Regions from separate parts of the Homo sapiens genome. Here regions 1, 2 and 3 are each linked to region 4. The links come from fine-mapping of genetic effects on gene expression. A gene starts in region 4. Each other region holds a variant in brackets. All regions are shown on one strand. Distances are from middle to middle.

Region 1 (2,690 bases), 33 kb before region 4:
TCGCTTGAGCCCAGGAGTTTGCGACCAGCCTGGGCAACATGGCGAAACCCCGTCTTTACAAAAAAAGAAAAAAAAAAAAAGACAATTTCAAACAGCCATACATACTGCAGAGACAAAAAGAAGCTGATATAATAATAATAATGGGAGGCTACCTGAGACTGAGTGGTCTAGGAAGGCCTCTCCAGGATGACTTGAGACAGAAATGAACAAACTATAAGCAAAATCCTGAAGAAAAGGAATCCCAGATAGAGGGAATGGCTATACAAGGAACAATCTGCTGTTGGGAAAAAGAGCAAGAAGACTAGCAGCTAGAGATCAGTGGGCAAAAGGAAGAATAGCATCAGATGAGGAAGGAGATGTGTGGCAGGGATCATATCATGTAAGGTCTTGTAGGCCATGATGAAAAGTTTGGGTTTGCACTGCGAAGCCACTGAAAGGTTTTAAGAGGAACAGTAACATCATCTGATTTTATTTTCCAAATATCAATTTAGGAGCTGACAAAAAAGTAAAATGCCTTCAGAAAAACTGGCAATAATGAAGTGCCAAAAGGAGGCTAAAATTACATCATGAATAAACAGGTACTAGTATAACTCTATGATGAATTATCACAACCATTGCGAAAATAATGTATATTTTAGATGGCATTAAGTATGCCATCTAAAGTGATATTTTAATACACTCAATTAACTGATAAGTATACTCTCCCTCTTTTTATAAAAGAAATATGTTAGAAGTTCCACAGACAAAGTGTAGCTAAAGAAAAGAGCTGAGCACTGGATTAATGAGCTAACCTTATCAGTCACACATTCAAAGTATCTTAGGTATACAAACCAGGCCTTTTAGACCCACACTATCCAAATGGTAACCACAGCCATTTGGGGGTATTAATGTTATGAACTGCCAGATGCTGTAAATGTAAAATAAACACCAGGTTTCTGAGACTTACTGTGAAAAAAAGAATGTAAAATATCTCAGTAATATTAATAATTTTAATATTGTAAATATTAGTAATTTTAATATTGATATATTGAAGTAATATTTTGATATATTATGAAAATTTATTTCACCAGTTTGTTTGATGTGGCTATAAGAAAATTTTATATTACATATGTAGGTCACATTATATTTCTACTAGACAATACTGTTCTAGACCCTTGACATCCCAAAGTGGGCTCCAAGGACCAGCAACACTGGTAATGCCTGGAGTCTGACAGAAATGCGGAATCTTAGGTTCTGGACCTACT[G/A]AGTCAGAGTCTACATTTTAACAAGAATCCCAAGAGATGTGTATGTACGTTCAAGGTTAAGAGGCATTATTGTAGATAATATTTTATTTTAAGCACATACAGATACTCAAACAGAGTACATGCGTATGACACTAAGTGACTTTTGGAATAAAAATAACTTTTACTGTAAAATAAATTATTTTAAAATATTTGTGATGTTAGCATTGTAACAGGTATCGAGGGTTATAACTGGACCATGGGGTAAGTACAATAAAAGCACAAAAAAGAAACATGTAGATCTGCTTGAAAGAAGTCTAAGTAAGGGAGCTTTGGTAAATCCCTTCCTCTTGGGGGCTTAGGACCCCTGAGCTAATGCCCATTAATGAGACTTTGGATACCACACTTTTTCTCCTAAAGTAGTTAAAGGCTTGAGTTCTTAGATGCAAAACTGGCTGGTGCAATTTCACTGCAAGCCCACAATTTGAATTTAGGTGCTCATGCTGCATCTGAAATATAAAATGACTCTCAAATATATTTCAAAGAATCCATGGGTTACTTTGTTTGGGCAGCCCCTGCTCTTAAATGCCTGGCCACTCCTGATACAACCAGCTTGGTTAACTTTGATATACTTAGGCAGCCAGATGCATCATCACCTGATCCTTTTCCACTAGAATAAAAACTATACTTAACTGTCCTCAAGGCATTTAAAGTAACAGAAAAATTGCTGTTAGGCCCATTTTAACTTAAATGCTATTCCTTCAGCAAGTGGACACAAAAAGACTCAGTTTCAGTTTCCTTCAGTACTGGGGGCTGTCTTACATCTATATTCAGATTTCTTTCATGTGAACTCCATTTGGGGAGGTGAGCAACTGTAACCTCTACTGGGCTAGGGATCTTCCTTCTTTCTCCCTACAGGGTCCTCAGGAAGACAAGGGGAGGCAATAGAGATTGCTTTTGTTCTCCCATAATCTGTGAGTCCAACTTGTTTTCAAAGGAAAGAGGGCTTCTAATGCCACTTCTAGAACTAGAAGGTCTGTCCTTAAACAAACAGTCTAATATAGGAATTCAGTGAGAGCCTCATAAAGTGTGATGCTTGAGGTGAGACCTAAAGAAAGGGTAAACCTTTTCCAGGCAGGTTAAGTTCATGGGCTACTATTATAATGCAAGAGAGAACAGAAGAAAAGAAATAGCGATGCAAAAAAGAGCACGGTACCTTCAGGAAATCACAATTATTTTACTGTGGGAGCATAAGGTGTGGCTAGGTACTATAGTTTTATTCTAATTTGGGTTAAAGAAGAGGGTCAAAATGAAGGCGGAAGTTTCACAAGAAATGAAGCCAGGCAAGAAGGCTGTGGCAGAGACTACTAGCAGCCTTCCACTCTACTCTGCTGCTGCCTACTTAAAAGGCTGCTTTTACCAGACTTCCTTGCAACAGGCTGCCATATGTCTCAGTGCTGGCCAATGACA
Region 2 (2,690 bases), 58 kb after region 4:
ATCAAGGCAATTGACAGTTGAAGCCAAATAACAATGAGTACTTCAAAAATAGCGACTAATGATAGTGACCTCAATTGTGTTCTCTGAGCTTATCTACACTAAAATACGGTATGCTATTTACACAAATTTGCATCTTTATATACTTCTTGATATAGGCCAAAAGTCACAAAACTTCCACTGAATTAACCAGTGATTTGTTTTGTATTATTTTAGTAACTGTATGAGACTTTTTCATTAATCTTCTAATTAGCACAGCCCTTTAACAGATAGTCCTTATCATTCCAGGCTGAGAAGGATTTATAAAGTTCAGCTAGTTTTGTGGTAGATAGTGATTACACTTTGGACATGGCCTCATTTTTTTAAATGTATACTTCTTGTTTTTAATCAAAGTCATCCATAACATTGTTTAGAATACAATAGTCATATAAGACTTAAGAAAAAAAAAAAGCAGCTCTGTGACCACTTTCCTGATACACACACATACACACACACACACACACACATACACACACACAAACACACTTTCTACACCCCAAAAGCAACCATTTTGAAGTCATTTAGCTGATATTTTCGGTATTTACTTCTACTTCTCTAAGTAACTTACTATACCTCTTGATTTCTATTTCTTCATTTTTCCATTTTAGGCATAGATAGCTAGAACTTGGAAGGTGAGAATTTAGCTCTTAAATACATTCACACACCCCAATCTCAACTCCAACATAAACACACTTCCCATACAAAAAACCCCAACACCCCTAAATAGTAATTTGTGATTTGTTAGATCAATTTTCAGTATTTACATTATGACTATATAAATGCTTTTGACAACTGAGCCATATAGTGTACCATGAATGTTTATTTTTATCTTTATTCTTACACTTTTTGATTTCCCTTAATAATATTTATTACTATCTCTCTCATCCTCCAAAGTCTCCAGTAACTATGTAAATCTTATCCCAATAAATTCAAATACATCAGGTATTCTATGAACTCTATCTTCTTAAATCAACGTCCCAGAGCTTTGTGATCTGCTCCAATCTAGATCAGTCAATCTTTAGAAAAAGAAATGTCCAAAAGATCATTCTGCAATGATGGAAAAGTTCTGTATCTACTCTGTCCAATGCAGTAGCCACTAGTCACATGTGGCCATTGAGCTCTTAAAATGTGGCCAGCATGACTGAGAAACTGAATTTTAAAATTTAACTTCAACAGCCACATAAAGCTAGTGGTTTTAACAAAGAGCAGCTCCACAACTGACATAGCTGTGATGTTGGATCTCCTTTCTTTTCTCTCTTAGTTTCCTAATCCCATCTTTCCTTCTTGATTTTCTTTATCTTAGGAGAGCACAAA[C/T]TCTACTCACTTCCAGAAAAGGGGTATATAAAAGGTAAATTGTTTTAAGACTGACAGTCTAGAAATTTCCTTCTTTCACTCTCACTCTTTATTAATTTGACGGGGCACAGAACACACTGGAAATCACTTTACCCTTGGTATCTTAAAGGCATTATTCCACTTCTAGTATTCATGTTGCTGTTGAGAACTCTAGTAACGTTTTGATTCTTGATCTTTTGTCTAAATCATTCTCTCACTTTATGGAGGCTTTCAAAATCTTTTCTCTATTCCAGATGCTCTGAAATTTCACAATAATCTTGGTATGAGTGTATCTTAATTCATTGTGATGGATGCTCAATGGGCCCTTTTAATCTGGAAATGTGTGTTCTACAGTTCTGAGAAATGTTAGTGAATTATTTTATTGGTGATTTTTTCTCCTCCAATTTGTTCTCTCCTCCTGAAACATGTATTATTTAAATAATCCCTCTAATTTTATCATCTCTTCCTATTTACCATCATTTAGGTTTGTTTTTTGTTGTTTCTGCACTCCTTTCTGATCAACCTCCTCCAACTCTATTGGATTTGTTTTAGTTTCTAAGAGCTCTGTGAACATTCTTGTTCTTATTTCATAAATGCAATGACTAACTTTTCCAAAAATTTTAAGGGCCACATTTTTTGCATTGTCTTCTCCTCCAAATCTCTTTTACTCTCTTTTGCTTTAATCACCATTTTTCACATCAGTGGCCTTCCTTACCTATGACTATCTGTTCATAATTAAGAATGAGATATTAAAAAGCTAATTAGAAGCTCTGTGTGTATGGTGGGGCTTGCTGGCAATGGACCTCACAGCAGGATGATATGGCTGGAGCCTTTCCTAGGGGAACCATTTATATTGGTATTTTTAGTTTCTTTTTTCTTTTGGCCTAGTCAAACTCCTCAAAGGAGACGTTTTTGCTCATGTAGCCATAAAATAATTTTGAAATACCATATATTCACACATCCTTGTGATATCTAAAAATTTTCATCTAAGTTTCAATCAATAATTACAGAAGATGTTATTTCTGACATATTGTTGACTTTTAAAAAACTATTTTAAAAACAATTGTAGACTTATAGAAAAGTCACAAAAACATTACAAAGAGCTCCCATATACCCTTCACCCTAATGTTAACATCCTATATAGCCAAAATACTATTATCAAAACCAGGAAATTAACATTGCTATAATACTGTTAGCTAAACTACAGACTTTATTCAAATTTCACACATTATTCCACTAATGTTCTTTTCTGTTTCAGAATCCAATCCAGAATTCCTTCCTGCATTTAGTTTAATATATCCCTAAACTCTGGTCTTCGATAA
Region 3 (2,690 bases), 610 kb after region 4:
GTACACAAGGCCAAGGTCTTGGGCCACAGACAAGGCTATAGATCCTACGTTCCAGCTTAGAGCATTCAGCTTTTTTTTTTCTTTTTTTCTCCAACATGGAATGTCACACAGCCTTGCTTCAGTCACTGAAGGAAAAAAAAAAAAAAAAAAGACAAGTAAAAAACTCAGCAGTATGTTTGCTACGAACAGCTGCAAGACTACCAGAACAGAGTTCTCCCACCCTCCATATTCATGGAATGCATGGAATCTCTATTAAAATTTATCATTATGAATGCAAAATTATTAACCTTACAAATTTGAACTTATTCCATCAGCAAGGAATCAAAGGTATATGGAATTTTTCAAAAGTTAGAAAAAAAAACGGGAACAGTCCTCTCTACAGTCCAGGCCTCCAAGATGACAAAGAAAAGAAGGAACAATGGTTGTGCCAAAAAGGGCCACAGCCACGTGCAGCCTGTTTGCTGCACGAACCGTGCCTGATGCGTGCCCAAGGACAAGGCCATTAAGAAATTCGTCATTTGAAACACAGTGAAGGTCGCAGCAGTCAGGGACATTTCCGAAGCGAGTGTCTTTGATGTCTATGTGCTTCCCAAGCTGTTATGTGAAGCTATATTACTGTGTGAGTTGTGCAACTCACAACAAAGTAGTCAGGAATCGATCTCATGAAGGAGAAGGATCGAACACCTCCACCCCAATTTAGACCTGCGGGTGCTGCCCCATGACCCCCACCAAAGCCCATGTAAGGAGCTGAGTCCTTAAAGACTGAAGATGGACTATTCTCTGGAGAAAAATAAAATGGAAATTGTACTTAATATTGCATGCTGAGTGTATCTGTGCCACCTAGGGTGAGAATTTTGTGTGTGTGTTAGACCAAGTGTGAAGTGACACAGTGTATTTTCATGGAGAAGAAAGCTTATTCATGTAAATCAAATCTTAATTGTTTGCAGTCACATCCTTGGCCTCACAATTTGCATAGTTGTGTAAAATAAAGGGGGCACAGGCACCTGAAAAAAAAAGGGCAATATAGGTGAGCAGAGGTAATCAGTGAAAGGTCTCTGGATTTTTACTCCACAACATGGCATTTCTTTCCTCTTAGCCTGCAATAAAAATTATGACATACAATACTACTTACCAAGAATTTAAAAAATGTATTCAAGCTATGAGAGAGAGGCCTGCCTTATTTAATCAACAAACATGCTCAGACCTCTTTGTCAAATGAGTTTAAAAGTTTTTACTGGCGGGGCTAGGTGGCTCGCACCTGTAATCCCAGCACTTTGGGAGGTTGAGGCAGGCGGATTGCTTGAACTCAGGAGTTTGAGACCAGCTTGGGAAACATGGTGAAACCCCAACTCTACTAAAAGTATAAAAAATTAGCCGGGCATGGTGGTGTGTGCCTATAGTCCCAGCTACCCAGGGAGGTAGGAGGAACACCTGAGCTTGAGAAGTTGAGGCTGCAGTGAGCTGAGATCGCTCCAGTGTACTCCAACCTGGGCGACAGGAGTGAGATGCTGTCTC[AAAATAAAT/A]AAATAAATAAATAAATAAATAAATAAATAAATAAATAAATAAAATAAATAAAAATATATATTATATATAATATATATATAAAGTTTTTACTGTTAAACAACTTTGGATCTTATTAACTCTTTACAGAACTTTCTCTAAAGATGATACACACATTATTGAATGTTACTATTTTTTTCCATCACCAAAATTAAGAATGTTCGCTTTCCTAGGGTTTCAATGCTGGGTTCGACTTCATACATTTATCTTCCATAATTATTGTAAAAAAAAAAAAAAAGTTACGTTACAGTAACAAAGATTTTACCATGTTAAGGTTTGAATTTGGATCTTTGTTAGAAAGAAGCTCAATCTGGACTCAAAAAGCCAAATCTGAGTTTGGGCCAATGAATCTTTTCAGCTGTATCTTTGCACACATATACATGTACCCACAAACAATAGACCTCTCTTCCCCAGAGATGAATTTTTTCAGATTCCAAGCTCCTCCCTCCCAGGTCCACAAATGAAAAATCTGTGAACATACACATGCACACACACAGAGAGTCAATGAAACACCGCTCTAAATCCAAGTCTAGAAGCAAATGCTGCTAATATCCTACCATTTATCTTTCAACTGTTTAAAAAATTATTCTTCTCAAATATAATTGAGAGCATGTTTTACACACAACTGCATTCAGATTTCTCTTGCTTTAATACAAAGTTGTATTTCTGCCTTGCTTGGTTGAATATCTGAGAACCTTTGGTAAGGAAGTCATCATAAAGCATCAAGAGGGAGGCCGTTTCAGTGAGGTCATAGTGAAGAAGAGAGAAGGCAGATATAGTTAGAGTGAAACAAAATCTGGTCTTGGATAGAGTGAAACAGCACCACTTTAAAAACCCTAGAGGCCATGGCAAAGAGACACACAGCGAAGCAGGGTGATAAGCCTGTTGCTGTCACGTGCCATCAGTTTTCTGGTTTATTTGATAAATATGGCACAGACTCAGAATCGATAAGAAGTAATGTGTCCAGATCTAGCTATAACAATTCTAAAGTACAAGATATAAAAATTGTCAGCACACTGAATGCAGTGCACTTGTGCTTGAAGAGAGAATCCCTAAAGGGTAAGGCTATATTCCAAAACACCAATCATTCAGGTAACTAAGACTGGAACCTATTTAATATTTTCAAATAC
Region 4 (2,690 bases):
CCAACATGGTGAAACCCCATCTCTACTAAAAATACAAAAATATTAGCTGGGTGTGGTGGCGAGCGCCTATAATTCCAGCTACTTGGGAGGCTGAACCTGGAGAATCGCTTGAACCCGGGAGGCAGAGGTTGCAGTGAGACGAGATGGCGCATTTGCACTCCAGCCTGTGCGACAAGATTGAAACTCCGTCTCAAAACAAAACAAAAACTGCCTCAAAGCCGGGCGCTGTGGCTCAAGCCTGTAATCCCAACACTTTGGGAGGCCGAGGCGGGTGGATCGCTCGTACCCGGGAGTTCGAGACCAGCCTGGGCAACACGGTGAAACCTCATCTCTACAAAAACTACAAAAATCAGCCAGGCTTCGTGGCGCGAGCCTGTAGCTCGCTACTTTTGAGGCTGAGGTCGGAGGATCGCTTGATCCCGGGAGGTCGAGGCTGCGGTGAGCCGAGCTCGTGCCCCTGCACTCCAGCCTGGGCGACTGGGCGAGATGCCGTCTCAAAATACCCATAAAAACAAAAACAAAAACAAAATACTGCCTCAAATACAAGCACTAAGAATTAATGAAAGTATTCTTTTGGTACAGTTCTTTTTGTTCATCAACTGAATCACGCTGCAAGCTGTGAAGTAATTAAGGGAACTTCTGCAACTGTGCAGTAAAAGGGTAAACCTGATAGTGTATTTAAGTAGACGTACTTTCTGGTAGTTAATTACTTCTTGACACTAGGGGGCCACTAAATACAAGTCCACTCAGCATTTGATTCGGTGCACCAAAATGCCTCAGAAATTTCTGGAATCAGTCCTGTACCTCCAAAAAACCAGAATGTTATCTTCTTCTTTTCTAACAGCTGCAAAGCCCCAGTAGTTCCATTTTTCTGTACACTAAGTTTTCATTCCTCAGTATCCTTCACAATCATGCACACATTACACAGAGTGACCGGAACAAAGATGAGTCGACTTCGCCGAATGATAGAGAAAAACTTCCATACTGAGCGAACACCGAGGGGAGTCCGGAGGCCCTGTTGTCCTCTTCCGTGGCTGGCTGTGTCCGTCGCAGCCTGAAAGGTCAGCGGTACCCAGCGCTGTGACAGGGTCACAGGCGCGCGATGTCTCACAGCTCGGAGCAGTACTCACCTGGCATTAGGCCGCGTGCCGCAGGCCAGCTCTCACCGCTGGGCTCTTGAAGCAGGAGGCGCGAGCCGCGCCAAAGTCTGCAACGGCCTCAAGTCTCGACGCCAGCCTAGGCAAAAGGCAATGTATCTAAACGAAAAGAAAATAGGCTTTCTCCGCTCTACCGCCTCGGGCAGCCACACCTCCACACTTCCGGCGGTGTACCGGCCAAATGCCGCCTGCCAGCAACTTCCGTCCTCCTAGCTAAAAGCGGAAAACAGAGGCTCGGAACCGCTGCGTGGTTCTTGCTCTTCACTCGGCCGTTTTAAAGGGTGACTCTTTCCTGTCCCGGCCTGCGTGGTGTGGGCTTGTGGGTCTTTGAGACCCGAAAATTGAGAGCGTTTTCGCACTCCAGCGGCTGCTCCTGGCGGCTCTGCGGCCGTCACCATGGTAAGGAGGATGCCTCGGACGCTCGCGACACACAGCGTCTGAGTTAGTGGGACCTGAGGACTCTGGGGCGCTGGGGTAGGGGGTGAGCGGTGGTAGGCGGAAATGAGAACTGCCAAGAGAAAAGGATGGTAGACCCGTGGGGTGGGCTCTGAGGAGTGGAAACAACTTCACATTCGAGACACAGACGGTATTTGCCAGAACACAAGCTTTGGAGCAAGATTTTACTCTGTCCTGTTTTCTTTTTTCTTTTTGATCCACCGCTAAGAGTCCTAAAAATTCCTGATTTCACCACAAGCGTGGTTATCAGCCCCAGAGCCTAATGGGAATATGGTTGTCCCTTGTACAGTCTTAGATGTCAGTCCCGCCCCCTTCATTTTACTGCTGAGGAAACTGAAGGCGTCCTTGCCAAAGACCAGACAGCTAATGAATTGCGAAGCCGGGCTTAACGGCCCAGATCTAACTGCCAGGTCCTTTCTCTTTGTGTTACGTCTCTATAATCTGCGTTTCTTTGCAAAATGGCATTCCATACACCCTTCATGTGATTGCTGCAAAGTTTATGTGATAGCAGTTGGTAGCAGCACACCTTGTTGGTTGTTACTTAACATTGCTCTCTGTGCTGGACTTGGCTTTGTATCATTTTTATTTTTGCAGCCTTAAAATACGAATAGACTCACGCCTGGCCGCGTGTTTAAAACGTGTCTAAAATGCAAAAAGCATCCCATACATTGCTGGTGAAAAGAAAAATAATGCACTTTTGGAAAACGGTCTGGCAGTAAACACACGTCCACATGAAGACTTGCATGCAGTTGTTTATTGCAGATTTATTCGTAATCACCCAAAACTGGGAACAACCCTGATACCTATCATCTGGTCAGCGGGTAAACAGTGGTGTATCCATACAATAGCATACTACTCAACAATAAAAAGGATTGAAGTTCCTATACCTGCAGCAAATTGGGTGAATCCCAAAAGCAAGAAACCAGATTCAAAAGGCTATGTACTACTGTTGATCCCTGTTTCATTCTGGGAAAGGCAAAACTGTAGGGATAGGTATCAAACTGAGGGTTGGGAAAGAGGATTGACTTAAAAGTTACATAGGGAATTTTAGGGGGAAATGGAAATTCTTTGTATTTT

The links. PIP is the estimated chance that this variant, and not a neighbour inherited with it, causes the effect. A credible set is the group of variants that fine-mapping cannot tell apart.
Region 1: its variant is the best candidate, but not a certain one, in a credible set for the expression of NSA2 in whole blood (TOPMed, PIP 0.67).
Region 2: its variant is the best candidate, but not a certain one, in a credible set for the expression of NSA2 in whole blood (INTERVAL, PIP 0.54).
Region 3: its variant is the best candidate, but not a certain one, in a credible set for the expression of NSA2 in cultured neurons (Aygun 2021, PIP 0.79).

The regions. Positions count from the first base shown.
Region 1 is chr5:74,733,269-74,735,958 of GRCh38, forward strand. All of the region lies in intron 15 of GFM2 (GTP dependent ribosome recycling factor mitochondrial 2), which reads right to left. Among named protein-coding and RNA genes, the nearest start is that of GFM2, 33 kb to the right of the region's middle. The variant G/A (reference allele first, on the strand shown) is at 1,245.
Region 2 is chr5:74,824,227-74,826,916 of GRCh38, forward strand. The region is part of intron 5 of FAM169A (family with sequence similarity 169 member A); the gene reads right to left. Among named protein-coding and RNA genes, the nearest start is that of FAM169A-AS1, 40 kb to the right of the region's middle. The variant C/T (reference allele first, on the strand shown) is at 1,351.
Region 3 is chr5:75,374,067-75,376,756 of GRCh38, forward strand. It overlaps a transcript of CERT1 not described here and the pseudogene RPS26P26. Among named protein-coding and RNA genes, the nearest start is that of HMGCR, 38 kb to the left of the region's middle. The variant AAAATAAAT/A (reference allele first, on the strand shown) is at 1,516.
Region 4 is chr5:74,765,808-74,768,497 of GRCh38, forward strand. NSA2 (NSA2 ribosome biogenesis factor) reads left to right here and starts at 1,442. Exons shown (of 6, transcript NM_014886.6): 1 at 1,442-1,556. The coding sequence starts at 1,554. GFM2 (GTP dependent ribosome recycling factor mitochondrial 2) reads right to left here and starts at 1,310. Exons shown (of 21, transcript NM_032380.5): 1 at 1,131-1,310. RefSeq lists an enhancer at 1,023-1,462.